Linked DNA regions of Homo sapiens. The protein of the gene in region 2 purifies or fractionates together with the protein of the main gene of each other region. This does not show direct contact. Each region holds a gene or a part of one and is shown on either strand. Other genes may lie near its edges.

Evidence for each region.
Region 1: the proteins of AP1M2 (region 2) and AP1G2 purify together in Homo sapiens (affinity purification with mass spectrometry; 4 studies listed by BioGRID and IntAct, with this or other methods). This does not show direct contact.
Region 3: the proteins of AP1M2 (region 2) and AP1B1 purify together in Homo sapiens (affinity purification with mass spectrometry; 5 studies listed by BioGRID and IntAct, with this or other methods). This does not show direct contact.

The regions. Positions count from the first base shown.
Region 1 is NC_000014.9:23,564,792-23,572,128, forward strand, and holds the start of AP1G2 (AP-1 complex subunit gamma-like 2), read right to left. Parts: upstream 3,001-7,337; 5' UTR 2,948-3,000; exon of another isoform or gene 2,761-2,947; coding exon of another isoform or gene 2,660-2,760; exon of another isoform or gene 2,529-2,659; 5' UTR 2,525-2,528; coding exon of another isoform or gene 2,524-2,524; coding exon 2,320-2,523; exon of another isoform or gene 1,896-2,319; coding exon 1,771-1,895; coding exon of another isoform or gene 1,629-1,770; coding exon 1,487-1,628; exon of another isoform or gene 1,370-1,486; coding exon 1,273-1,369; coding exon of another isoform or gene 1,102-1,272; coding exon 1,025-1,101; exon of another isoform or gene 911-1,024; coding exon 815-910; exon of another isoform or gene 665-814; intron 409-664; coding exon 328-408; intron 50-327; exon of another isoform or gene 1-49. Other genes in the region: JPH4 (junctophilin-4), read right to left, coding at 4,843-4,926, 6,137-6,669, 7,011-7,129.
Region 2 is NC_000019.10:10,584,278-10,592,289, reverse strand, and holds the start of AP1M2 (AP-1 complex subunit mu-2), read left to right. Parts: upstream 1-4,977; 5' UTR 4,978-5,058; coding exon 5,059-5,100; exon of another isoform or gene 5,101-5,135; intron 5,136-8,012. UniProt on the Homo sapiens protein: Subunit of clathrin-associated adaptor protein complex 1 that plays a role in protein sorting in the trans-Golgi network (TGN) and endosomes.
Region 3 is NC_000022.11:29,385,571-29,392,379, reverse strand, and holds the start of AP1B1 (AP-1 complex subunit beta-1), read left to right. Parts: upstream 1-3,809; 5' UTR 3,810-3,956; intron 3,957-4,283; exon of another isoform or gene 4,284-4,471; intron 4,472-6,809. UniProt on the Homo sapiens protein: Subunit of clathrin-associated adaptor protein complex 1 that plays a role in protein sorting in the late-Golgi/trans-Golgi network (TGN) and/or endosomes.

The DNA.
Region 1 (7,337 bases), on a different chromosome or scaffold from region 2:
CTCAGCCTCCTGAGTGGCTGGGACTACAGGCACATGCCAACAAGCCCAGGTAATCCTCAGGATTCTTGAAGGACTCCAACATGTTATCTGTCCATCCTTCAACCATCCAACAAAGTTCCCTGAGGCTCTACTATGTGCCAGGGCCAGCCTGGGCACTGGGGCAATAGCACTAAGACAGACTGTGTCCCTTCTTCATGGAGTTCACTGTCTAGAGGAGATGGAGAGGCAATTACACGGCCACTGCACAGTGACGAGTCATGTGAGGGGCACCCAGGGCTGATGGGGTCTCCAAGCAACACAGCTAACCAGTGCCCTCCCAGGCCCCACCTGGGCCAGCAAGTCATTCATGGTCTCACTGCTCTCCTCGTGGTTCCGGCCCAGGATCCGAAGCAGACGAAGTATCTGGACCTGAGGTTGGGTTGAAAATGGAAAGTTGGAGGGGTTCATAGGATAAGGAGTCGTGGGGCTGAGGAGAAAACTCCAACATGTGAGGGTCTGGCTCGCTCCCTAGAGCCTTCCCCCACCTCCTCACCTCCACAGGTCCCTTGGTCCTAGGAGGGGAACAGAGGTGTGTGAGGCCAGGGGAGTTTAGGACAGGCTTAAAAAAAAAATTGTTAACAAACTGTATTTTCCTGACTTTTAGGCATTCCCTCTCCCCTCACAGGTCCTGGGATGACCCGAGCAATCCTGTGCCTGCTACTCTGCTGCCCAGGACACTGAGAGAACCAGTGTTCTCTGGGAGGAAACCACTGGTCATGGTCTTACTGCTATGCCCTCTCTGATCCAGGGATACAGCAGTGAAAGGTCACCCCACCTGCAGGAAGGGGTCGCTGACTCCAGATATGCTGTGTTCTGTGGAGTATCCCATTGTCACCAGAGTCCGGAGGATGTGTACCAGCTGGGGTACCACCTGGAGGGAGGGCACAACTTTGGGCATTCGTTCTAATCCTCTCCAGCTAAAGCCCCATTCCTTCCCCACTGACCCTGTCTTCCAGGCCCAGGGCCTGCCCCTTCACCAGCCCACCTTTCGGAAGTGCCTGAGGGCTGCAGGGCTTCGTTCGCAGAGCTCCGTGATCAGCGTGATGGTGCCCAGCAGGATGCCTGGGGTCAGCGTCGGGGAAGTGAATGGTGGGGGCCAGGGGCAAGAGAGTCTATTGCGTGTGTGCCTGTGTGTGTGCACTACCCTTCTCCTGTGAGCTGGGGTTCCCATCCGATTTTCAATTCTTCTGTCCATAGACCTGAAGCAAAGGATGGGGGGCCCCACAGCCTTACCATGGTGACGCTCATGAAGCAGTTGGGCACAGGGTGGGAGGAAGACACTGGAGAGTTCAGGGACCTTCCGGATCATGTGCACTGCAGTCAGAATAGCCTGCAGAGGTCAGGGGCCTCAGACAGGGGTCAGAGGAGATGGACCCCTGCATCTACTACTATATAGCACGCAGCAGGCAGTGTGCAGGAGCACGTGCCAGGAGTCCCGCCATCTCACCTTCTTGCGCACGTAGGGACTGGGCTGCAGGAGCAGTTTCTCCACCTCTGGGGCCAGGTCTCGGCACATCTCAGCAGAGCCCATGGTGCTCAAAGTGCACAAGGCCAGGCCTTGTACTGGCTGAATCCCCTGGCTCAGGTCACTGCAGGGTTTGGGAGGACGGTCAGTCAAACCTCTGAGAAAATCAGTCCTTTTCAATACCCACAACAGGCAGTCCCCTGGGATTTCCAAGGTCCCTACTCTCCCATCTCCCTGATTCCAAGTGATTGCCAGAACCCTCTCACTTCTTGATGCTGTTGGTAATGAGCAGGTGGGCATCGTGCCTCTCATCCAATAGAAGCATGGCCCCCAGGTAGCCCACCCTCTTGTCTGTGAATCTGGAGGAGGCGATCAGTTTCAGGCACTCCATCTATAGTGAAGGGGGCAGACCAGGAAGAGGCAGGGGTGAAACCATAGACACTCACATCCCTGTTCCATCTTCCTCTTTAAAACCAGATTAACCTGTGGGGCATCATATCTCATCACTCTCCCTTCAACAAGAGGAGAAGCTTAGGAAATTCAGGCGTTAGTGGGTAGGAGGAACTAGGAGTTGAGGAGGATGGGAGCGGAGAGGAGGAGATGCCTGCCCTAAAGGAGGCTGGCCAGAGAATGAAGGGTTCAGGCCAGCTGATGACCAGTAGGGGTAGCAATGGGGAAAGAGGTTTGCAGTGCAGGCTGTGAAGACTCTGAAATTGTAGAATTTAAAAAACCAGGGCATAAACAGGTGAGAGAGTCTGGGACTCTGCCCCACTAGCCTTCATCAAGCTCAGGAGGGAGGTATTCCTGGCCAGTACCTGTCCAAAGTGGGCGGGGTAGCCCAACATGTGGACGTAGAGCAGTTTGGCCAGCTGCCGGTGCCTGTGCACTGGGTCCCCGTCGCGGAAGGAGGCCCGGATGTGGGCACACTCCTTTTGGATCACCTCCCGCTCCTGGGCCTGAGTCTTGGCCCCGCGAATCTCTTCGATGAGGTCCTGAAGCTTCAGCGAAGGCACCACCATCCTGACTGGCAGAGTCCGGGAGTGGAGAAACACTCTCTGGTCGGGCGTGCCTGGGCTTTCGGCCCAGGCCCGTCCTGTGTCAAGACCCTAAGAGCCCGGGTCCCACAGGTACCCTAAAATTGCGCCCGCATTTTACCTTTCCCGAAGTGGGTCTCCAAATTCCGCGCCCACCCCACCGCCCGAGAAGCCCACTACGCATGCGTCCGCACCCCACCGGCGCCCCTTCCTATTGAGCATGCGCGGGAGCCCCACCTATTTCTCTCTACCGTTTCCTCCCCCTACCTGGTACCCCATCCCTAGCTCAGCCATTGCTTTTTTTTCCACGACCCTCCGCTGTTTCTTCCGCGAGCTTCCTCCCCCGATTTCCATCTCAGGCAGCGGCAGCGGCAGCGACAGCCTGCCTACCCCAGGACTCCAGCCTCACCTGGCTTCTGCCTCAACTCCGCTCCTCTGCCCCCCAGCGCTTCCTGGTACGGGGCCGAGCAGGGGTTGGTGCTCCGTGCGGTCCTTCCCTCTCCCCGCCTCCACCACGGGACCCCGCCCTCCTGGGCCGACTGCAGAGCCTTCCTGAATCCTCTGACCTCGGGCCTCAGGCTTTAGCGGAGAGACAGCATGATAGGCCTGGAGTTCTTCAAGAGGCCTCCTCGCACATCCTTACCACCCGGAGAGCCTCAGTTTGGATTTGAAGCCATCGCACCCCAAAGGAGATGACAATCCCCCCCCTTTTTTGAACTTTTTTATTAATATATTTTTTTTGTTAAATTTCTTTGTATTTTTTTCCTGCAAGACTTGGTGTTGGCGGCACTGTTGTAGTTTAACTTCAATCCCAAATTCCATGAAATAGAAATCAGAAGTAAAGGTTGAGAGGGGAGGAAGGAGGGAGGCAAGCCAAGGAATAAACAAGAGTTTGACTAGAAAAAAAGAAGAGGGTATGTGTGGTGGGCATTCCTGGGCAAGGCCATTCCTTGAGGGAGGGGGTTGGCAGGCAGCTTGCCTCTGCCTCATGCAGGGGAGGGAGGAAAGATCCCCTGGGGACCCTGCAGTCCCCTCTTCCTAGGGCTTCCTGCTCCCAGGGGAAAAACTAATACCAGAGAGGGATCAGCCACAACCTCAAACAGGGCTCTCCACCCACCTGTCACCCGGGTTTGACTCCCACCTCTGCCCTGCCTGGGAAGCATGTGAGATCAGCTATCTTTGATCCCCTCCTTCTGTTGTTTTCCCATTTCACAAGATTCTGATGTAAAGGGGGAAGGGATATAACCCATTTTGGGACTACTAAACTTGTCACAGCTTCTGCTTCCATGTGAGCTCCTGTTATCTTGTCTGGTCCTATCCCCCAGAAGTGCCTCCTCCCACCACAACTCCCAGAGTTGGGATGTGGGGGCCTTGCTCAAGTGCCTCTAACCCTCTGCAGTAGAAATGTCTTCTTCAGGCCCCTTAGGAATTTAATCAAAGGCCACAAGTGAGTCCAGACCAACCAAATAAACTATTATGGGGGAGACAGAAGGGTGGGAGAAGTCAGTGGCAAAGTCTGGGCAGGGTGGACTTGACTGCATTGGATATTCTCTGTTCCTTTACACGTTGCTCTTGGCATGGCATGCCACCAGAGGGGGCTGGAGGAGGGGCTGGCCGATGAGGAGAAAAAGAGGGAAATGCTGGGGAGTTACTCTACTTTTCACTTCCCTTCTCTCCTTCAGGGAAGGATGGAATTGGGCAGTAACCCAGCTCAGTGCTTGGAGGTAAGATAATAGCCTCCAAGATTAGAGGTGGAGGATGCACCTCCTGCAGCTTTTTCACTAGGCCTCAGAGGGACAGCAGGCCCCTTAGGCTAGGGAGCCACAGCAGCTCAGCCAGTGCCTTGCCCGACATTCAATCACTCCTTCTTCATTTTCTTCCTCCTCTCCATTCAGCTTCCAGGAGTCTCCTTAGGACACCAAACCCCCACCCGCAGCGAAGTTGAGGTCTAAAGAAAAGGTGGGAGGGCGTGGAGCAATGGTCTGACTTAGATTTGTGTGTCTCAGAGAAGACAGCAACTCTGAGAGAGAAAAGCCCTTCATATGTAAACAATCTAGAGAAAGAAGGGGTTGGGATGGGGAAGGGAGTGAGGAATACAGAGACAGATCCAGAAGAAATGAGATAATCTGAAAGAAGACAGGGAAAGAAAAAGCGAGAGAAAAAAACAAAGGAGCACAGAAAAGAAAGGAAGAAGAGAAAGAAAGATAGGAGAAAACACAGCCAGGAAGAGGAGAAGAGAAAAAAGGCAGGTCAAAGGGGTGAAGAGGCACGCAACCAAAGCCAGAACCAGGCCAGGAAGTAGCCTCAGGTGAGGAGCTGGGAGAACAGGAATGCCAGGCTGAGGTCCAGGAGGGCCACGGCTCCCACCACCAGGGGGTTGGCAGCTCCCTAGAGAGACAGAGGGGGAAGCAGACTCAGTCCCCGAGGACAGGGCCCACCTTCCTGCCCTGACTGAGGTGGCAGAGCTGAAGGGTCTCAGGCACCTCCCTGCACAGCCTGGAGCAGGGGGATCGCCAACATTTGTTTTGGATTGCAAAACCCCCTCTTCTCCCAGGCAGGGCCCCACCTTTCCTCTGACACCTTCAATGCAGGGACAGCCCTTCCACCTCCTCCCTCTAGTCCCCTCCCATCAGCATATCATGTGTCCCAGGCAGGAGGTGCCTGGCCTTAGTAGCAGACATTGGCAGCAGCAGCCAGTACTGCAGTAAGGCAGAGGGATGAAGGGGTGAGGATGTGGTTGCTAGGAAACAGAAGGCCTAGAGCCCAATCAGAGTAGAGGGTTCTGGGCAAACTCCGCCTCTCCCGGTTTTCTGCCTTCTTCTCTATTTCAACTTCTTCCCGGGAGAGGGAGGGAGAGTCAGGGTAGGGAGGGAACAATCTTTTCCTTTTTTATTTCTGGGCACCAAAGAGAGAAAGTGCGGAGGTGGGGGTGGGGGTGGAGTAGGAAACTGAGAGCTGGAAATGATATGGAAGGAGAACGGGGGAAAAATGTTCTGGCTCTCCCATTAATTATTAGTTTACAACCCTGGGCAAGTTACTTTTTTTTTTTTTTTTTTTTTTGAGACAGAGTCTCGCTCTGTCACCCAGGCTAGAGTGCAGTGGCGCGATCTCAGCTCACTGCAGGCTCCGCCTCCCGGGTTCACGCCATTCTCCTGCCTCAGCCTCCCAAGTAGCTGGGACTACAGGCGCCCGCCACCACGCCCGGCTAAATTTTTTTTGTATTTTTAGTAGAGACGGGGTTTCACTGTATTAGCCAGGATGGTCTCGATCTCCTGACCTCGTGATCCGCCCACTTCGGCCTCCCAAAGTGTTGGGATTACAGGCGTGAGCCACCGCGCCCGGCCTGGGCAAGTTACTTTAAGTGCTCTGGGCCTCAGTTCCCCCATCTGTCAAATGAGGGAGTTGGGCTTGCAGGTGTGTAAGGTTCCTTCCAGCTCGAACGCCCTCTATTTTTTTGAGGTGGGATGTGGTCCAAGACTGGCCAGGCAGAGGAAGCCGAGTGAGATAAAAAGCCCCCCCGGTGATCAGACAGTTCTGGAAAGGGTGGGAGGCAAGGCTTTGGGAGAAGAGGGCACACAGCAGGGACAGAGGATCTCACCGGCTGGGCAGGCCTCTCGGTTGCAGCGGGCTCCCCGAGCTCTTCTGTCAGGCACCCAGCATCAGGACCCCTCGAGGACGAGCCCCTCAGGACCAGCATGGCGATGGGCTCAGGCTCCGTGCCTGCTGGGGCCCTCAGCGGGGGCAGGGGCTCTTCATCCTCCCCCTCCTCCTCTCGAAGACTTCCTGAACTGTCGCTGCAGCCTCCGAGGAGTGGGGAACCGTCTCTGGGCCCTGGCCCTTGCATCCCAGCCTCATCCTCAGCCTCATAGCCAGCTAGTTCCTCTGCCTGTGCGCCTGCCCCCCCCCACTCCTCAGGCCAAGCTTTGGGGCTGGAGAAGGGACCCTGGTCCCCTCCAGGAGGCAGTGGGCTCCGGCAGGCAGGGGGTCGCCAGGGTTGGCGGGAGGAGGCAGGACTGCTGGGCAGTTCAGGGGATCCCTCTGAGGGGGTCAGTCCGTTCTCATATACCCCAGGGCTGTCCTCATCCAGGGGCTCCGTGTCGGAACCTTCTGAGTCCTGCCTGGGTCTGCGGCCTGGGTAGGGATAGCTGAGAATCAGAGGGGCCTAACTGGCCTTGGGCTGGAGTGGCTGCAGCTTTATTCCTGACTGGGCACTTCCCAGGACTTTGGAATTCCCAGGCTCATAGCCTCTCACCGCCAGACCCCAAACCCCCCATTATCCTACTGCATACATTCCCAAGTCCCACTCCCCAGACTACCAGGTCTGGCCCCCACCCTGTGTTCCTTGCACCCTCATTCCTTGTTTTTTCCCATCCCCACTTCCCTTGCAGGGCTTCTCATCTGTTTCCCCACACCTGAGCCTCTCTAGCTCCCTAGGGGCCTCACTGCCCTCCCCCCAGCTGTCCATGCCTCACCTGGGGCCTCTAGCATGGGCTGCAGGTCCTGGGCTATCAGTTTGGCCATTCGAGCTGCCTCCACGGCCTTCTCAGCGACACTGCTGGCTGCCACTGCCTTTAGGAGGGCGTCTGCTGCCCTGTCGGGTCCAGAGACAGGGATTTAGCAGAACTTCCCCCACTTCAAGTTAGTCCCTGCTCAGATGCTCCAGCCCCCTAGCCCCTGTCCCCTCTACATCACATCCTCCTCTCCTCTGGAGTCGTCACCCTTCGCCACACTCTGCCAGCTGCTTCCCTTCCTGGCAGGCCAGGGCAGCTCCCGTTTGGTTTCCTCCCCCTGACCTGGGC
Region 2 (8,012 bases):
GGCTCACGCCTGTAATCCCAGCACTTTGAGAGGCTGAGGTGTGCGGATCACGAGGTCAGGAGATCGAGACCATCTTGGCTAACACGGTGAAACCCCGTCTCTACTAAAAATACAAAAAAATTAGCCGGGCTTGATGGCGGATGCCTGTAGTCCCAGCTACTCCGGAGGCTGAGGCAGGAGAAGGGTGTGAACCTGTGAGGCGGAAGTTGCAGTGAGCCGAGATTGCGCCACTGCACTCCAGCCTGGGCGACAGAGCAAGACTCTGTCTCAAAAAAAAAAAAAAAAAAAATTTAAAAATTAGCTGGGAGTGGTGTTGCTCACCTGTAGTCCCAGCTACTGGAGAGGCCTAGGTGAGAGGATCTCTTGAGTTCAGAAGGTTGAGGCTGCAGTGAGCCGTGTTTGCACCACTGCACCGCAGCCTGGGCGACAAAGCAAGTCCTTGTCTCAAATAAATAAAAAAAAAAAATAGGCTTCTGTAATTCAAGGGGCTGTCTTGAGGATTCCTGCATGGGCGACATTTAGGGCCACCCTCACTTATGGTGAGCACCATTTAAGCCAGAGTTAGTGTTACTAATAGTAATATTTGCATCCAGCAATATAGCAAAGCAGGCGGAAGCAGGCTGGGACCAGATTCTTAAATCCCGGGACTCAGATTCGAATTCTGGGTCAACTGCCTCCTGGCTCTGGGGCCGTGGGCTTGGGCAGGTGCCTTCACTTCTCTGTGTCCCTGCTTCTACCTTTATAAGATGGCACGAAGGAGACTTGTGCCAGATGATAACTTTTTATTTTTCATTCTATTTATTTATTTTCTTGAGACGGAGTCTCACTCTGTCACCCAGGCTGGAGTGCAGTGGTGCCATCTCGGCTCACTATAACCTCCGCCTCCCCAGTTCAAGTGATTCTTCTGCCTCAGCCTCCCAAGTAGCTGGAATTACAGGCATGCGTCACCACGCCCGGCTAATTTTTGTATTTTTAGTGGAGACAGGGTTTCGCCATGTTGGCCAGGCTGGTCTCAAACTCCTGGCCTCAGGTGCTCTGTCCACCTTGGCCTCCCAAAGTGCTGGGATACAGGCATGAAACATTGCTCCTGGCCCAGATGATAATGTTTTAATTAAAGTGCAGTGCTGCTGTCAATGTTGATGTTAATTTCAGGTGGAGAGGCAAGTGGATGATCCTGATAGCTGCTGTTCTCTAAGTCCCCACCTACAGGGGCTGATAAAGGGCTGGGCAGGGTTTGGGGAAAGGACAAGTGAGGTCTGGGTAGGCTGAGTCTTGTTCCCTGCAGGCCCTGCAGGACATCTCCCTCCCTCAGCCAAGCAAGGTGGTTCTAAGCAAGGCTGAGGTTTACTTTCCCTTTCCTTCTGCCCTGTCCTCAAAACTACCGCACTTTGGGAGGCTGAGGTGGGCGGATCACGAGGTCAAGAGTTCGACAGCATCCTGGTCAACATGGTGAAACCCCATCTCTAATAAAAATACAAAAATTAGCTGGGCATGGTGGAGTGCACCTGTAGTCCCAGCTACTTGGGAGGCTGAGGCAGGAGAATCGCTTGAACCCAGGAGACAGAGGTTGCAGTGAGCTGAGATCGCACCACTGCACTCCAGCCTGGCGACAGACTGAGACTCCATTTCAAAAGAAAAAAAAAAGGAAAGTCCAGGGGTGGAATCTGGGTCTGCAGCAGCTGGTGTGCACGAAACATGCATGGAGCCAGGGGCCATGCCAGGTATTTGGCTATGCAACTGCAGGAGAGGGCACCATGGCTGTTATACCCATTTAACATAAGAGGAGACTGAGGCACAGCAGGTGCATTCACCAGCCCATGCCTTATAGCCAGTGTGTGGTGGTATCAAAAATCAAACCCAGCATCTGTGCTCTCAACTGCTACATCATCATCCAGATCATCATCTTCATCCTCCTCCTTCTCAGCGACATGGTTGACAGTCAGCTACATCCAAGTTCCCTTCCAACACCACGTTGCACAGAATAACTCATTTAATCTGCACAAACCAGGCACAGTGGCTCAGACTACGCCTGTAATCCCAGTACTTTGGAGGGCCAAGGGGGGAGGATCGCTTGAGCCCAGGAGTTTGAGACCAGCCTGGGCAACATACCGATACACCATCTCTACAAAAAATGTAAAAATTAGCTAGGTCGGGCCGGGTGCGGTGGCTTACACCTGTAGTCCCAGCACTTTGGGAGGCCGAAGCGGGCGGATCACGAGGTCAGGAGATCCAGACCATCCTGGCTAACATGGTGAAACCCTGTCTTTACTAAAAGTACAAAAAGTTAGCCAGGCGTGTTGGCAGGCGCCTGTAGTCCCAGCCACTCGGGAGGCTGAGGCAGGAGAATGGTGTGAACCTGGGAGGCGGAGCTTGCAGTGAGTTGAGATCGCGCCATTGCACTCCAGCCTGGGTAACAGAGCGAGACTCCATCTCAAAGAAAAAAAAAAATTAGCTAGGTGGGCCTGGCCTGGCGCGGTGGCTCACACCTGTCATCCCAGCATTTTGGGAGGCTGAGGCGGGTGGATCACGAGGTCAGGAGTTCAAGACCAGCCTGGCCAAGATGGTGAAACCCCCGTCTCTACTAAAAATACAAAAAAAAAATTAGCCGGGCGTGGTGGCAGGCGCCTGTAATCCCAGCTACTTGGGAGTCTGAGGCAGAGAATTGCTTGAAGCTGGGAGGCAGAGGTTGCAGTGAGCAGAGATTGCGCCACTGCACTCCATCCTGGGCGACAAAGCCAGACTCTGTCTCAAAAAAAAAAAAAAAAATCAGCTAGGTGTGGGCCAGGCGCAGTGGCTCACGCCTGTAATCCCAGCATTTTGGGAGGCCAAGGCAGATGGATCACGAGGTCAGGAGTTCGAGACCAGCCTGGCCAACATGGTGAAACCCCATCTCTACTAAAGATACAAAAAATTAGCTGGGCTTGGTGGTGCACGCCTGTAATCCCAGTTACTTGGGAGGCTGAGGCAGCAGAATCGCTTGAGCCTGGGAGGCAGAGGTTGCAGTGAGCCGAGATTGTGCCATTGCACTCCAGCCTGGGCAACAGGACGAGACTCCAAATTAAAAAAAAAAAAAAAAATTAGCTAGTTGTGGCCAGGCGCAGTGGCTCACATCTGTCATCCTAGCAATTTGGGAGGCCAAGGCGGGTGGATCACCTGAGGTCGTGAGTTCAAGACCAGCCTGACCAACATGGAGAAACCCTGTCTCTACTAAAAATACAAAAAAAGTAGCCGGGCATGGTGGCGCATGCCTGTAATCTCAGCTACTCGGGAGGCTGAGGCAGGAGAATTGCTTGAACCTAGGAGGCATAGGTTTCAGCGAGCCGAGATCACATCACTGCACTCTAGCCTGGTAAACTAGAGCAAAATTCTGTCTCAAAAAAAATTAGCTGGGTGTGGCGGTTTGTGCCTGTAGTTCCAGTTACTAGGGAGGCTGAGGCAGGAGGATGGCTTGAGCCCAGGAAGTTGAGGCTGTAGTGAGCCATGATTGCATCACTGCAGTCCAGTCTAGGGTACAGAGTGAGACCCTGTCTCTACAAAAAAAGTTTTTTGGCTGGGTGCGGTGGCTCACGCCTGTAATCTCAGCCCTTTGGGACGCTGAGGCGGGTGGATCACCTGAGGTCGGGAGTTCGAGACCAGCCTGGCCAACATGGTGAAACCCCATCTCTATTAAAAATACAAAATTAGCCAGGCGTGATGGCGCATACCTGTAATCCCAGCTACTTGGGAGGCTGAGGCAGCAGAATCCCTTGAACCCGGGAAGCGGAGGTTGTAGTGAGTAGAGATCATGCCACTGCACTCCAGCCTGGAGTCTAAAAAAAAAAAAAAATTAGCTGGGCATGGTGGCGCTTGCCTGTAATCCCAGCTACTAGGGGTGCTGAGGCAGGAGGATTGCTTGAACCTGGGAGGTGGAGGTTGCAGTGAGCCAAAATCATTCCACTGCACTCCAGCATGGGCAACAGAGTGAGACTCCATTTCAAAAAACAAAAAAAAATAAATTTTTTATTTGAAATGAATAAGAGTAAATTTGTAAGAATAATAAAAGCAAGTACATTTGTCCTGCTCGGAATTATATCCACAGTTCCTGTTACTGAGTGAATGAATATTTCAAATTCAGTCAGTAAAATTCACCAGTGAAAATTATTATATGAATGAGTGAATGAATGAATTGGGCAAATTTTGAGCACCCAGTGCTGAGCACTAGGGACATAAACATGAACAAGACAAAGTCCCTGCTGTATGGGGGCTGACGTGTGTGGGTGAGACAGAGGAGAAAGAAGGTGAATGGATGGATGAATCAATGAGAGGATGAATGAATGGATAGATGGGTGGATGAATGGATAGATGAATAAATTAATGAATGCAAGAATGGATGGATGGATGGATTGATGAATGGATAGATGAATAAATTAATGATGCAAGAATGGATGAACGGATGGATGGATGGATGGATAGATGAATAAATTGATGAATGTTAGAATGGATGAATGGATGGATGAATGGAAAGATGAATAAATGAATGAATGCAAGAAGGGATGAATGAATGGATGAATAAATGGATGGATGAATGGATAATGGATAGACGAACAAATAAATGAATGCAAAAATGGATGAAGAAATGGATGACGAATGGAAGGATGGATCAATGAATCGATGGAAGATGGATTAATGAATGGCTAAATGAGTGGATGCGTGGATGGATTAATGAATGCAAGAATGAATGGATGGATGGACGAATGGATGGATAGATGAATGAAAGGAAGGATGAATGAATGGATGGAAGGATGGTTGATTGGTTTGGGGTCTCCACCCGTCATTACTCCTGGGTGGCTAGGGAAAGTGAAGGGGGGCAGCAGACCCATCTGAAGTCGCAGTACCTCTCCCGGCCCCGCAGCCATCTTCAAGTTGGCCGACAGCGCTGCTCACCTGGCCGCCTCCCCTTTAAGACGCACACACCTGGGCTCTCACCTGGGCGCAGGCGCTTCCGCAGGAAGAAGGAAGCGGCGCCGCCATCGCCTCCCGGCGCTCCCTCCCCGACTCCTAAGTCCTTCGGCCGCCACCATGTCCGCCTCGGCTGTCTTCATTCTGGACGTTAAGGGCAAGGTGAGGCTGGGCATGAGGAGTTGGGAGACGGACAGGTGAGGTCTCGCTCCCAGGGATTCAGGGGCGACCCCTCCGCGCGGGCCAGGAAGAGGTCTGGGAACACCCCCTCCCCCTGCAATCCCTGGGAATCCCACCTCCAGCATCCACTCGCCTTGTGCCTGAGGCCAAGGGGTTCGCCTCCTAGGGCCTCAGTTTCTCTGTATGTAAAAATGGGAGCAACAGAGGTCCCCACCCAATGAGAATTAATACAACTCGCTGCGTGTAAACTACTTAGCATAGTGGCCTTTCTGGAAATATTAGGGACTCAGCAAATTGAAATTATCTCCATCACTGTCGGCATCCACAGTGTTAATACCTGGGGAAGGCAACTGGAACAGGGGCCTCTAACTCCCCCCATCTGTGGCTGCCTTGCCTCTTCCTGAAGTCCTTTTATTCCTCTTGTCTTTTTTTATTTTGGAGACAGGGTCTCTTGCTGTCTCCCAGGCTTGAGTGCAGTGGTGCGATCATAGCTCACTGCAGCCTGGAATTCCTGGGCTCAAGCGATCCTCCTGCCTCAGTCTCCGGAGTAGCTGTGACTACACAGGTGCAGGCCACCATGCCTGGCTAATTCTTGACATTTTTTTGTAGAGGGATCCCGCTATGTTGCCAAAGCTGCTCTCAAACTCCTGAATATCTGGGGCTGCGGGCTGACCCCTCCATGCCCGGCTATTTTTAATTTTTTTTTTTTTTTTTTTTTAAATAGAGTCTTGCTCTGTCACCCAGGCTGGAGTGCAGTGGCTCCATCTTGGCTCACTGCAACCTCCACCTCCCGGGTTGAAGCAATTCTCCTGCCTCAGCCTCCCGAGTAGCTGGGACTACAGGTGCATGCCACCATGCCTGGCTAATTTTTGTATTTTTTTTTTTTTTCAAGACAGAGTCTCGCCTTGTCACCCAGGCTGGAGTGCAATGGCATGATCTTGGCTCACTGCAACCTCCACCTCCCAGGTTCAAGTGATTCTCCTTCCTCAGCCTCCTGAGTAGCTGGGATTACAGGCGCGCACCATCACGCCCGGCTAATTTTTTGTATCTTTAGTAGAGATGGGGTTTCACCATGTTGGGCAGGATGGTCTCAATCTCTTGACCTCGTGATCCGCCCACCTCGGCCTCCCAAAGTGCTGGGATTACAGACATGAGCCACTGCGCCCGGCCGCACCCGGCCTATTTTTTATTTTTATTTTTTTGTACAGATGGAGTCTTGCTATGTTGTCCAGGATGGTCTTGAACTCCTGGTCCCCAGCTATCCCCCTGCTTCAGCCTCCCAAAGTGTTCGGATGACAGGTGTGAGCCACTGCAGTCAGCCTGTCTTGTCATTTAATAGCCAAAATAAGAGTGGTGGTGAAAATAATATTCCCATTAATATTAATAGTGAGAGCTAAGATGTTTGAGAACCTGCCATGGGTCCTCCCTGTTCAGACACTGGACAAAACAACCTTAGGAAGTGGTTAACTAATTTTTTTTTTTTTTGGAGATGGAGTCTCGCTCTGTCACCAGGCTGGTGTGATCTCAGCTCACAGCAACCTTCACCTCCTGGGTTCAAGTGATTCTCATGCCTTAGCCTCCTGAGTAGCTGGGATTACGGTCATGCGCCAGCACACCAAGCTAATTTTTGTATTTTTAGTAGAGACGGGGTTTCATCATGTTGGCCTGGATGGTCTCGAACTCTTGACCTCATGATCCACCCGCCTTAGCCTCCCAAAGTGCTGGGATTAAAGGCGTGAGCCACCGTGTCCAGACAGAAGTGTTTACTATTATGGGTGTCTTCCTGACTACCAGGCACAATCATATGAACTGTCATCTTTCTTTCTTTCTTTCTTTCTTTCTTTCTTTCTTTCTTTCTTTCTTTCTTTCTTTCTTTCTTTCTTTCTTTTTTTCTTCTTTCTTTCTTTCCTTCTTTCCTTCTTTCCTTCTTTCTTTCTTTCTTTTCTTCTTTCTTTTTTTGACAGGGTCTCACTCTGTTGCTCGGGCTGGAGTGCAGTAGTATGACCACAGCTCACTGTAGTCTCGACCTCCTAGGCTCAATTGATTCTTCTGCCTTAGCCTCCAGAGTAGCTGTGACTACAGAGGTGCAGGCCACCATGCTCAGCTAATTCTTGAAATTTTTTGTAGAGGGATCCCGCTATGTTGCCAAAGCTGGTCTCAAACTCCTGGCCTCAAGGGATCCTCCTGCCTTGGTCTTCATGAGTGAGTCATTGCACCTGGCCTCTTCTTTGTTTTTTTTTTTTGTTGTTGTTGTTTTTTTAAATAATCCCACTTTGGTGCAAATGAAGTCTGGGGCAACAGCAGGGATTCTGGACCCAGGATGCCTTAGATCAATCCCCAGTTTCCATATGCTTCCAGTGGACATGGTTTCTAACCTCACTTCTCCTGTGTGAAATGGAGATGATGATAACATCTACCCCACAGGGTTGTGGCAAGAACTAATAAGTTAGTAAACATCTACTCTTTTTTTAGTAGCCAGCCTGCCTGCCTACCTTCCTTCCTTCCTTCCTTCCTTCCCTCCTACCCTCCCTCCTTCCCTTCCTCCCTTCCTTCTTTACTTTCTTTCTTTCTTTCTTTCTCTCTTTCTTCTTTTGAGATGGAGTCTTGCTCTGTCGCCAGGCTGGAGTGCAGTGGCACGATCTCGGCTCACTGCAATCTCCGCCTCCCAGGTTCAAGTGATCCTCCTGCCTCAGCACCCCGAGTAGCTGGGACTATAGATACACGCCATCACGCCCGGCTAATTTTTTGTATTTTTAGTAAAGACGGGGTTTCACCATGTTGGCCAGGATGGTCTCGATCTCTTGACCTCATGATCCACCCGCCTCGGCCTCCCAAAATGCTGGGATCACAGGCGTGAGCCACTGCGTCCAGCCATCGCCTACCCTTTAATAAAA
Region 3 (6,809 bases), on a different chromosome or scaffold from region 2:
AGCCAGGTGTGGTAGCTCATGCCTATAATCCCAGCACTGTGGGAGGCCAAGGCGGGCGGATCACCTGAAGTCAGGAGTTCAAGACTAGCCTGGTCAACAGGTTGGAACCCCATCTCCACTACAAATACAAAAATTAGCTGGGTTTGGTGGTGGGCGCCTGTAATCCCAGCGACTCGAGAGGCTGAGGCAGGAGAATTGCTTGAGCCCGGGAGGCAGAGGTTGTAGTGAGCCGAGATTGCTGCCACTCCACTCCAGCCTGGGGGACAGAGCAAGACCCCGGCTCACCAAAAACAAAACAACAACAACAACAAAAACCTTCTACTTGTCCAGGCATCCCTGGTCCCTCCAACCCAAAGGAACTTCAGTTTTAGCTCTGGACTCCCATAGCCTCCCAGTATGTCCCCTCTCACAGCATCAGTCACACTTGTGACTTGCTCCTCTGTCACCCCCTCTCCCTGCAAACTGTAGGCTGAGCAAGGGCAGGGCCTTAGCCTCACCCATCTGACTATCCAGCACCCAGCCCAGGGCCTGGCTGAAACCAGAGGCTTGGAAAATGCTTTCTGCAGGACTCAGACACCTGGCTCCCTTGCACTGGGCGTGGGGGTGGGCCCGTGAGGTTTTCCTGCCTCGGCACAGTTCTTTTCTCTGGATTACCCTTTCCTTCTCTCTCAGCCTACGCAACTCTGTTCTCATTCGGCAAGACAGCGCAAATGCCATCTTCCCCAGGAAGTCCTTCCTGAGCCGCCCGGTGCTGTGACCTCTCCCTCCTTGGAAATCTTAAAGCTCTGACTCCTTCAACCACTGACTTGCCACTTGCACATAAGCTCTCCAGCTTGATACCTTTAGGTTTGTTGGTTTGTTTTGTAGGATAATTTTTCTCTTCTGATGTTACATTCCCAATGAAATTTTGTTTTCCACTGAGGCGGGTGGCATTTACCAACATCTATCATCAGAGAAGGGCAGTTCCTCCAGAAAGTTGCATATCACACATGCTGCATGGCACATACATACACATAAAATTATTCCAGGCACACAGAGGAAAGATCGTGTGAGGACATAGCAAGAGGGCGGCCATCTACAAGCCAAGGAGAGAGGCCTCAGAGGAAAGCAGCCATGCCAACACCTTGATCTTAGACTTCCAGTCCCCAGCACTGTGAGAAAATAAATTCCATTGTTGAAGCCAAAAGAAAAAAAAATTCCATTTGTTCCCTGACTACTTTTTTATTTTTATTTTTTTTGAGACAGAGTCTCACTCCGTCGCCCAGGCTGGAGTGCAGTGGTGCAATCTTGGCTCACTGCAAGCTCCACCTCCCGGGTTCACGCCATTCTCCTGCCTCAGCCTCCTGAGTAGCTGGGACTACAGGCACCCACCACCATGTCCGGCTAATTTTTTGTATTTTTTAGTAGAGACGGGGTTTCACTGTGTTAGCCAGGATGGCCTCCCTGACTACTTTTAAAAAGGATTTAAAAATGGAATAAGGTGGCCGGGCACGGTGGCTCACACCTGTAATCCCAGCACTTTGGGAGGCTGAGGCGGGCGGATCACAAGGTCAGGAGAGCCAGACCATCCTGGCTAACAACGGTGAAACCCCGTCTCTACTAAAAATACAAAAAAAATTAGCCGGGCGTGGTGGCGGGCGCCTGTAGTCCCAGCTACTCGGGAAGCTGAGGCAGGAGAATGACGTGAACCCGGGAGGCGGAGCTTGCAGTGAGCCGAGATCGAGCCACTGAACTCCAGCCTGGGTGATGGAGCGAGGCTCCGTCTAAAATAAATAAATAAATAAATAAATAAATAAAAATGGAATAAGGTTTGTAATTTAGATAACGGTATTTTACCAACACCACCAATTTCCTGCTTTTGCTATTATACTGCAGATATATAAAATGTCACCATTGTGGGAAGCTGGGTGAAGGGTATATGGGACTCAATTTTGGTACTAATTTTGCAATTTCCTGTAAGTCTATAATTATTTAAAAATAACTTTTAAAGGCTTTGAGGCTGCTTAAACATCTAAAATTATATTAAATATAAAAACCAGTAATATCTATATTAGATAGGACGTAGAGACTTAGCAATAAGTGCACTTAGCAGTAAGTGCAAGCTTATTTATTAACAACTTTTTGATAATATTAAAAAAGATGGATAACAACCTCAGGGGATTGTTTTTGAGATTAGCAGTACCATCCACGTAATGGAATACTATGCAGATACTGGAAAGTGCCAAGTAGAAATGTATTTACTATTTTGGGAAACTTTTACCAATATTTTGGTGAGTTAAAAAATACCAACAGTGGCTCACGCCTATAATCCCATCACTTTGGGAAGCTGAGGTGGGCAGATCACTTGAGGTCAGGAGTTCAAGACCAGCCTGGTCAACATGGTGAAACCCCCGCCTCTACTAAAAATACAAAAATTAGCTGGGCACGGTGGTGCATGCTTGTAATCCCAATTACTTGGGAGGCCCAGGCAGGAGAATCGCTTGAACCTGGGAGGCAGAGGTTGCAGTGAGCCAAAATCACGACACTGCACTCCAGTCCGGGCAACAGAGCGAGACCCTGTCTCAAAACAAACAAACAAAAAAAAACAAATGATCTATCAAGTTTGGAAGAATATTCACCAAAATATTAAAAGTGATTGTCTTAGGTCAGTGGGATTGCAGATGGTTTTTTTCTTTTTTCTTTTTTTTTTTTTTTGAGACGGAGTCTTGCTCTGTCGCCCAGGCTGGAGTGCAGTGGTGTGATGTCGGCTCACTGCAAGCTCTGCCTCCCGGGTTCACGCCATTCTCCTGCCTCAGCCTCCTGAGTAGCTGGGACTACAGGCGCCTGCCACCACACCCGGCTAATATTTTGTGTTTTTAGTAGAGACGGGGTTTCACCATGTTAACCAGGATGGTCTCGATCTCCTGGCCTTGTGATCCGCCCGCCTCGGCCTCCCAAAGTGCTGGGATTACAGGTGTGAGCCACCATGCCCGGCCATTTTTTTTCTTTTTTTGAGACAGGGTCTGGATCTGTCGCCCAGGCTGGAGTGCAGTGCTGCAATTATAGCTCACTGTAACCTCAACCTCCTGGGCTCAAGCTATTCTCCTGCCTCAGGCTCCCGAGTAGCTGGGACTACAGGTATGAGCCACTGTGTCTGGCTCAAGGTCACTCATCTTAAGAATGGAGGGGTCCAAACTAGAGCTGTAAACCTAGTTTGGACAGAGAGAGACCCCTCTGTAATCCCAGCACTTTGGGAAGCCGAGGCGGGAGGATCTCTCGGGTCCATGATTTCGAGACCAGCCTGAGCAATAAAGTGAGACTCTCTCTACAAAAAATAAATAAGTAAATAATAAGTAATTAGCCGGGCGTAGTGCTGCGCACCTGTGGTCCCAGCTGCTTGGGAGGCTGAGGTGAGAGGATCACCTGAGCCTGGGAGGCGGAGGGTGCAGTGAGCCCAGATCTTCGAGCCACTGCACTCTAGCTTGAGCAACAGAGCAAGACCCTATTTCAAACAAACAAACAAAAAATGAGTGACCTTGAGCAAAACCCTGCCCCTCTTAGAACCTCAGATTTGCCGTCTTTACACAGAAGATGGACTTCAAACTCCCTACGACCTTGCCCGGCCCCCTCACGCTGAATTGGCTAGCGGGATGGTTTCCCAAGGGCTCTGCGGGAGACTGCAGCATAGCAGCGCCGCGGCTGCCGAGGGGTTAATACCGTTGGGCTCTTCCCCTTTTCTTGCCCCGCCCCACGGGCACCACCCCCGCCAGGGTTGTACCCTTGACCCCGCCTTCAGGCCTTGCGTCCACCGGAAGTACCCGCGCGCGGGCAGCTCACTTCCGCCCGGCAGGTGACAGCCGCGGGGCTCCGAGCCGCCGGCAGCCCGGACGCACCGGGAGAGCGAGAGGTGGAGGCCGCGGACATTTTGGTGCCAAGCCGAACCGAGCCGGGGCGCCGGGAGCTATTGGGACCTGCGGGTGAGGAAGCGGGGACCCGGGCGAGCCAGGAGAAGAAGTGGGGCGAGGGGTCAGGGGTCCTAGGTGAGGGGTTTGCGGGGTCAGAGGTCATGAAGAGGACGCGGCGCTGCAGGGGCGCGAGCGACGTCCCCAGCCAGAGGAGGAGGAAGGGCTGAGGGTTCGTTCATTCATTCGCGCCCACTTGGCCGCCGGCCTGTTCCTCGGCCGCCCCATACCCGCAGCACCTCCTGGGGCTTCCGCCCGGAGAGACAGGACTTAGGCCCCGAGGAATTCCCCACTGGCCTGAGGGAAAACTCTTCGGGCTCTGATTTCCTCTTTCGGACTCACCTCCATGGCCATCCTGAGGCCTCCTCGTTGTTCAGGGCGTTATCTCTTTGCCAAGGTTGAAAAAGAAGAAAGAAAAAAAAACTAGAAAACGGTCCCGTGCCGCCCGCCTCCGGCTAGGCACTGGCTTGGTCTTGTTTGTTGGAGCCTCTAAGACAAGTTAACTGAATGGAGACACCGGTGATAATGCTGCAAAATAACGAGGGAGATGCTTGCTAGTGGCTATCGAGTCCCTTCTGTGTACCGGGCACTGTGCTAAGCACTTTCCTTACAATGACACATTTAAACTTCACAGCAACCTTTGTGGGGATTAAATATCCCTATTTTATCGATGAGGACCCTGAGGCACAGAGAGGTTAAATCCCACATGTAAGGTCATTCGGGTAGTAGAGGCAAGGCCAGGTTTTCTGCCAGGCTGTCAGAGACCTGCAAAGTACAGAGACAAAGGAAAGACTGGAGTTAAGGTTGGGGTGTAGGGGATATTTAAGACTTTTAGCCAGACATGGTGGCTCACGCCTGTAATCCCAGCACTTTGGGAAGCTGAGGCGGGTGGATCGTGAGGTCAGGAGTTCAAGACCAGCCTGACCAACATGGTGAAACCCTGTCTCCAATAAAAATACAAAAATTAGCCAGACATGGTGGCGTACGCCTGTAATCCCAGCTACTTGGGAGGCTGAGGCAGGAGAATCGCTTGAACCCAGGAGGTGGAGGTTGCAGTGAGCCGAGATCGTGCGACTGCACTCCAGCCTGGGCCACGGAGTGAGACTCCGTCTCAAAAAAAAAAAAAAAAAAAAGATTTTTAGCTGCCGTTGTATTTATTTGGATTTATGTCACGATGTAGCCTTATTGCTTTTTGTCTGATCTTCATAAGGGGCATTCGACTTACTTTCTTTAGGATAAAACAATCCTACAGGCTGTTGCTATTAGTGATACCTTTCAGGGCAAGAGTCTAAGATTTTCCTGACTTTAGGGAACAGTGAGACACAAAACAGGCTATCCGTGAAAACTATTTGAAGATTGTCGAGAACTTCTCTTCAGAGTGGTTGAGCTGCATTCGTTTTGGTCTAAAAAGAGAGGAACCACATGACCTCTAGGGGATCTTTTGGTCCTAGGTTCTGGAAGAAGGTACCCAGAGGAAGAATCTTTGCCTTTCTGAGAAATATGCAGGCCCCATGGCTTCTTGCCAGAGCAGAGCACGTCTTACTTGGGAGGTGGTGAGACGGTTTGGTGGCTGGAGGACTAGGCTGTATGAATCTAAGCCTCATTCCATTGCGGATATTCACTTGCTTCAATTCTGCCTCAGTTTCCCTGACATCAACATGAGAAAGACCTGCCGCCTTCCTGTCTGCTCCTAGGGGTATGAACCTGTGAATGAACCCGTGAGGGCTTCCACATGGCTTCTGAAGAAAGCTGTATATAAATATTACTGTAATACCTTTTTTTTTTAAGCTGTGTGATCTATTCTCCTAGTTCCATTGAATTCACAGAAACTTAATATTGTCACCTTATATTCCCATCCTTCCAAGGGAGGATTTGAGATGAAGCAACTTGTCACAGAGGGTAGGAACATGAGCAGAGCTCAGAGCTTCTGGTTTTCTGTCCTGAGTTGAGCCCACCAGTCTCCTCTGACCTCTTAGAAACTGTCATGAGGAGCATCTTCAGTAGGTCTCAAAGAGTCAGATCCCTCAGAGATTGTGTGAAGATCATCTGTTGAGTGTAGGTCAGTGGAGGCTTCACCCTGAGCTGCTTCAAGAGCCCAGAGGTATGATGGAAAGATCACCAGACTCCCAGTCAGTCAGCCCTGGGTTCAACCCCAGCTCAGCAGCTTCCTGGCAGTGTGACCTGACCTGGACCGTTGACATAGGCTGGCCCTCCTTTACCTCAGTTCTAAAATAATACTGGCCACCCTTTCTGACTCCTCTACCCCTGGTTTGTGTGAGGGTTAGATGGGAAAATTTGTGCAGGGCCTGTGATTTTTGGGTGCTTTGACTCTAGGCAGACTGATGCCTGCTGGGGGCCTGTGTCTGAGGAAGGCTGCCAACCTTGGCTTCTGGAGCGTTACTTCCTTCTGCAAACAGAGACCTTAATGTACGCAGGACTTTTTCCACCCTTCTTGTTTCACTTCCTAAAAGTAGTTCAGAACAAGTTCAATTTGTTGGTCCTTCTGGCTTTGAGCTTGGGCTTGCATCTTTTTCTAGTCATCCTCTGAAACTCTTGCATGTCTTAACTACTTCCCAGGAACTTCCCGTGTCTGGCACCAAAGCCTGACATGCTGACAGTAAGCAAACATGGCTTGGGTTTTGCACTTCGCTGTGTTTCTGAAGGTTGAGGTGACATCTGTGCCTTGCAGACATTTCTTTTTCTCAGCAGGTCTTTTTGCCTAAGAGACATCGTTGATATTATCACAGCCCAGAAGTGATTTTTCTGTTCTTTATGTCTTCACATGGAGAGGAACAAATACTCCTGAGAAAAAATGTCAACAGAGCAGTTGGGGAATCCTTAAAGAAAATTCTGCTTGAAAATTCATCA